Linked DNA regions of Homo sapiens: region 1 is linked to region 2. The links come from fine-mapping of genetic effects on gene expression. A gene starts in region 2. The other region holds a variant in brackets. All regions are shown on one strand. Distances are between the middles of the regions. Region 1 overlaps ZFR2 (zinc finger RNA binding protein 2). Region 2 holds the start of ZFR2 (zinc finger RNA binding protein 2).

Region 1 (2,887 bases), 64 kb after region 2:
CCGTCCTCCCCCACACCACTGACCATGGTCCTAGAAGCCCAGCCGTGGCCGACAGCTCCGCCTGCCCAGCCCTCACCTGTGGTTACCTTGTTTGCAAATTTGTTTATAAGAAAAATCTCCTAGCAGCACCAAAACCAAACCGCATCGGGTCTGACGTTTCTGAATTTTGCCTTGAATGGGATCACTGGAATGGCTTGCAGTGCAGGATGTGGGGTCCCTCCAGTGAGGCGGAAAGAGCTGGTGGTCAGTGGAGCGGGGGGGCCTCCTGGGACAGTCCTTGTGGTCAGCCGGCACCACGCGAAAATTCCTCAGGCCCTGCAGTGACCCAAGCTCCGCAGTCGTAAGAAGCGGTGTCGGCCGGGCCGGGTGGCTCACGCCTGTCATCCCAGCACTTTGGGAAGCCGAGGCGGGCGGATCACAAGGTCAGGAGTTCGAGACCAGCCTGGCCAACATGGTGAAACCCTGTCTCTACTAAAAATACAAAATTAGCTGGGCGTGGTGGCACACGCCTGTAATCCCAGCTACTTGGGAGGCTGAGGCAGGAGAATCACTTGAACCTGGGAGGCGGTGGTTGCAATGAGCTGAGATCGCGCCACTGCACTCCAGCCTGGGTGACAGAGCGAGACTGTGTCTCAAAAAAGAAAGCGGCGGGGGGCCGGGGGCTATCTCGAGGGATACAGGATAGGCCTGGCCCATCTGCTGGTGGCCACAGACACCAGCCCCTCTGTGTCCCCAGCACTCGGGGAGCAGAGCGGGCGGGGGTCCTGACAGGCTGTGTGTGCCCCGCAGCACGCCCTGCGAATGCTGGCCTTCCGGCAGACCCACAAGGTCCTGGGCATGGATCTCCTGCCGCCCAGACACCGGCTGGGGGCCCGCTTCCGGAAGAGGCAACGGGGACCTGGCGAGGGAGAGGAGGGCGCAGGGGAGAAGAAGCGGGGCCGGCGGGGCGGAGAGGGGCTCGTGTGAGCCGCCTACCTCCCCCACCTGCGGGCCTTTGCATCCCTGCACTCCTGGACGTGTGCGCGCCGACCAATGGCTGCTTCATCCCCGACGTTGGACAATGGTCATTTCCTTTTGAGTAACGCTCTGTAGGTTTCCTTTAAAACACCTGTGCTTCAG[A/G]CCGGGCACTGTGGCTCATGCCTTTAATCCCAGCACTTTGGGAGGCTGAGTTGCTTGAGCCTGAGAGTTCAAGGCCAGCCCAGACAACAGAGTGAGACCCCCATCTCTCCAAAATATTTTTAAAAATCAGCTTGGCATGGTTGGTGGCCAGGCGCGGTGATTCACGCCTGTAATCCCAGCACTTTGAGAGGCCGAGGTGGGCAGATCGCCTGAGGTCAGGAGTTCGAGACCGGCCTGGTCAACATGGTGAAACCCTGTCTCTAGTAAAAAACACAACAATTAGCCTGGCGTGGTGGTGTGCACCTGTAGTCCCAGCTACTTGGGAGGCTGAGTCCGGAGCCTTGAGGCCAGGAGGGCAGTGAGCTGTGATTGCACCGTGACACTCCAGCCTGGGCAACAGAAGAAGACTTTGTCACTTAAAAGAAATGTTTTTTAACATTTGTGCTTAAATTGTTACAGAAATGACACCATCCAGCCCTGGGAGTGGCACCCCTTCCTCGAGGGCCCCATCCCCCACAGCCAGGGGGGCCAGCAGTACAGCAAGCAGATTCTAAACTCGGGGGCATCTTGCTGGCTCTAAACTCACCTCGTGGTACAGGAAGGGGTTTTAAAATACTTCCTCTGGGCTGCGCATGGTGGCTCACACCTATAATCCCAGCACTTTGGGAGGCCAAGCTTGGTGGATCGCTTGAGCCCAGCGGTTTAAGATCAGTCTGGGCAATATGGTGACACCCCATCTCTACAAAAAATTAGCCAGTTGTGGTGGCCCAAGCCTGTAGTCCCAGCTACTCGGGAGGCTGAGGCCGTAGGATCCCTTGAGCCCAGGAGTTCGAGGCTGCAGCGAGCCGAGATTGCGCTACTGAACTCCAGCCTGGGTTACAGAGCGAGACCCTGTCTCAAAGAAACAAACAAACAAACAAACAAACAAACAAAACTTTCTTTGGATGCGGCTGCGGCATGGATTTGAAATCACGTGGGCAGGCCCTGTTCTGGGGCCCCACCACATGTGCAGGACAAGCCCAGGGGAGCTCCCAGCCGGCATCCCCACGCCCCCAGCCCAGCCTGCTCCAAACAGACCCCCCACCCACCTCCACAGCCAGGATGTCAGCAGGGCCTGAGCCAGGCTCGTCCCCTGTGGGGAGAGCCACAGGGCCAGGTGGACACGCCGACGGGCGATGAGGATCCTGGCTGGGCCTCCCCCGGGAACAGCTGTGCTGGACAGTCAGACCCGGAGCCCAGAGGCACCCCCACCCACCCCCCGCCCCGAGCCCTGTACCACTGAGTGCCTTTCACAGAGAAAACCCACTCTGCCATGTGTCACTGAGGCCTGGATTTGAGCTTCCGTCCTTCCTTCCTCCCTCTCTCCCTGATGTAGGCCTTGGCTGGCCCTGAGGCAGGGGGTCCCCAATCCCCCCTTGTGGTAGCAGGGCCCGGGACCCGTGCCTGGGGGACCCGGGGAGGGGCCGCCGTCTTGTGGATGCTGGCCATGGTGGGCAGGCGCCTCCTGGCACTGATGGATGTGGGGGCACCCCCTTCTGAGTCCCCACCCCAACCTGTTCAAACCTTCCGCTTGGTCAGTTTTTTTTTCTTTGGCCAGCTGCCCAGTGGCATTGAATGAGAAAAGTCCACCTTTGGGCAGATGTGATCTCCAGCCAGTGGCTCAGTTTTGTTTCTCTGTGTTTGAAGGACAGCCTGCATGTGGCTCTGTCTGAATGTCTTTGTAGAGCTACCTGGAAATTGGGAGGCAGGGGGAATAAAGGAAATCATT
Region 2 (2,848 bases):
TAAGAGATTTGTCTGTTTGCCTCCATTTATTTGTTTATTCATTCAATTCTTTCTCTCTCTCTCTCTCTCTCTCTTCTTTCCTTCCCTTCCCTCCCTCCCTGCTCCTCTCCCTCTCCTCTTTTATTATTTATTTATTTATTTTTTTATTTTTTATTTTTTTATTTTTTTGAGACGGTGTATTGCTCTGTTGCCCAGGCTGGAGTACAGTGGTGTGATCTCGGCTCGCTGCATCCTCCACCTCCTGGGTTAGGTAATTCTCCTGCCTCAGCCTCCCGAGTAGCTGGGATTACAGGTGTGCCCCACCACGCCTGGCTAATTTTTTTTTTTGTATTTTTAGTAGAGACAGGGTTTTGCCATGTTGGCTAGGCTGCTCTTGAACTCCTGACCTTGGGTGAGCTGCCCACCTCGCCTTCCCAAAGTGCTGGGATTACAGGCGTGAGCCACCACGCCCAGCCCTTTCTTTCTTTTCTCTTTTTTGAGACAGGGTCTCACTCTGGAGTGCAGTGGTACAGTCACAGATCACTGCAGCCTTGACAGCCCAGGCTCAAGTGATCCTCCCACCTTAGCCTCCTGAGTAGCTGGGACCACAGGCATGTACCACCATGACCAGCTAATTAAAAAAAAATTGTAGAAACAGGGTCTTGCTATGTTGCCCAGGCTAGTCTCAAAGTCCTAGGGCTCAAGATCCTCCTGCCTCCGCCTCTCAAAATGTTGGGATTACAGACGTGAGCCACTGTGCCCGGCCTATCATTTATTTATATCACGTTGTGAACACAGGAGGCAGAGACCATGGGGGCCTTCTGAAGAGTCATTCTGAGGCTAGATGCAGTGGCTCACGTCTGTAATCCCAGCACTTTTGGAGGCCAAGGCAAGATTATTTGAGGCCAGGAGTTCAACATCAGCCTGGGCAACATAGCAAGACACTGTCTCTACAAAAAATTTAAAAATTAGCTGGCTGTGGTGGTGGTGGGGCTTGAGCAGAGACCTCCACATCTGAGTGGTTAAAGAGAAGGTGGGGCTCGGAGACAGAGGTAGGGCTTGTGCAGAGACCATATCTGAGCAGGTAAAGGGAAGGCGGGGCTCCGAGAAAGAGGCGGGGCTTGTGGCATGGGTGGGGCTTGAGCAGAGACCTCCACACCTGAATGGTTAAAGGGAAGGTACGGTTCCAAAAAAAGGCGGGGCTTGTGGCATGGGTGGGGGTTGAGCAGAGATCACATCTGAGTGGGTAAAGGGAAGGCAGGGCTCTGAGTAAGAGGCGGGGCTTGTAGCATGGGCGGGACTTGATCAGATACCACCACATCTGAGTGGTTAAAGGGAATGTGGGGCTCCGAGAAAGAGGCAGGGCTTCTAGCATGGGCGGGGCTTGAGCAGAGACCTCCACATTTGAGTGGTTAAGAGGAGGGCGGGGCTCTGCGTAGGAGGCGGGGCCTCGGGGCAGGTGTGGTCGCGGGGCGGTGTCTCCCTAGCCTAAGAGAAGGAAGCGAGAAGGTGAGGGCTTCGCGCAGGGGGCGGAGCTTGGGGCGCGTGGCCAGGCGCGAGCGGCACGCGGCTCGGGGGCGGGGCGGGTGACGTCGCGGGTCCGCCAGGCTCGGGGAAGACGCCAAGATGGCGACGAGTCAGTATTTCGACTTCGCGCAGGGCGGCGGCCCGCAGTACAGGTAACTGCCCCGCCGCGCCAGCCCCCGCCAGTCCCGGCCCCTGCAGCCTGGCCGGGACCCCGCCTACCCCTTCTCCCGCCGCGTGCGCCCGGCCCGGCCCCAGTCCCAGCCCCAACCTGGAACCCCGGCCTGAGGGAAGCCGCGGCGCCGGGAGAAGCAGGCGGGGCGGCCTCAGGTTAGGCACCGGGCGGGATGCGGGCTCCGGGGCTCCGGCTGAGACGTCTCTGCAGCCAACGGTGTCTGTCGGCGGGAGCGGGAGGGGGCTCCTGAAGTGGGAGGGGGCCTGGGTTTGGGCCTGGGCCTGTGCGGGGTCGGGGGGGTCAGCCCCTGATGGGGGCGCCACGAGGAGGGCAGCGAGAGGGGACAGACCCGGGCGGGGGGTGGGTGGTCTGACCGAGGAGGGGAGGGGACGGAACTGACCCAATGCAGGGAGGAGACCTGGGAGGTGCCTGGCCGGGGAGTGGGTGGGGATGGGCAGAGGGGAGCTGACCCCTGATTGCTGGTAGGGGAAGAGAAGACACAGACCTAGGAGGGTGTCTGGCTGGGCAGGAGGAGGGGAAGGGCAGAGGGGCATTGACCCCCGATTGCGGGGGGAGGAGAAGACACAGACCTGGGAGGGTGCCTGGCCGGGCAGGGGGATGGACAGAGGGTAGCTGACCCCCGATTACTTGTAGGGGAGGAGAAAACAGAGATCAGCGAGGGTTCCTGGCTGGGCAGGAGGAAGCCACAGTCGAGGGGTGAGGAATTGGCCCCTGATGGGGGTAAGAGAGAAGACAGAAACCTGGGAGGGTGTCTGGCTGGACAGGGGGAGAGCTAGAGCGGAGCTGACCCCGATTGCTGGTAGGGGGAGAGAATTCAGACCTGGGAGGGTGTCTGGCTGGGCAGGAGGAGGGGAAGGGCAGAGGGGCGTTAATCCCCGATTGCTGGAGGAGGAGAAGGCAGAGACCTGGGAAGTTTCCCGACTGGGCAGGGGGCAGCAACATTCGAGTGTGGAGGGCACTGACCCCTGATGGTGGGGGTAGGAGAGAAGGCAGAGACCTGGGAGGGTACCTAGCAGGCAGGGGCAGAGACCTGGGGTGGGGTGTGGAGTAGGGGTGGGAACCTGACCCCTGATGTGGGGTGGAGGAGAGAAGACAGAGACCTGGGAGGTTACCCCAGGGAGGGGCGGAAACCGAGGTTGGTGGGGAACT

The links. PIP is the estimated chance that this variant, and not a neighbour inherited with it, causes the effect. A credible set is the group of variants that fine-mapping cannot tell apart.
Region 1: its variant is the best candidate, but not a certain one, in a credible set for the expression of ZFR2 in nasal epithelium (TOPMed, PIP 0.83).

What each region holds. Positions count from the first base shown.
Region 1 is chr19:3,804,028-3,806,914 of GRCh38, reverse strand. It overlaps ZFR2 (zinc finger RNA binding protein 2), which reads left to right. Exons shown (of 19, transcript NM_015174.2): 19 at 790-2,887. The coding sequence ends at 966. Among named protein-coding and RNA genes, the nearest start is that of MATK, 19 kb to the right of the region's middle. The variant A/G (reference allele first, on the strand shown) is at 1,120.
Region 2 is chr19:3,867,775-3,870,622 of GRCh38, reverse strand. ZFR2 (zinc finger RNA binding protein 2) reads left to right here and starts at 1,585. Exons shown (of 19, transcript NM_015174.2): 1 at 1,585-1,658. The coding sequence starts at 1,606.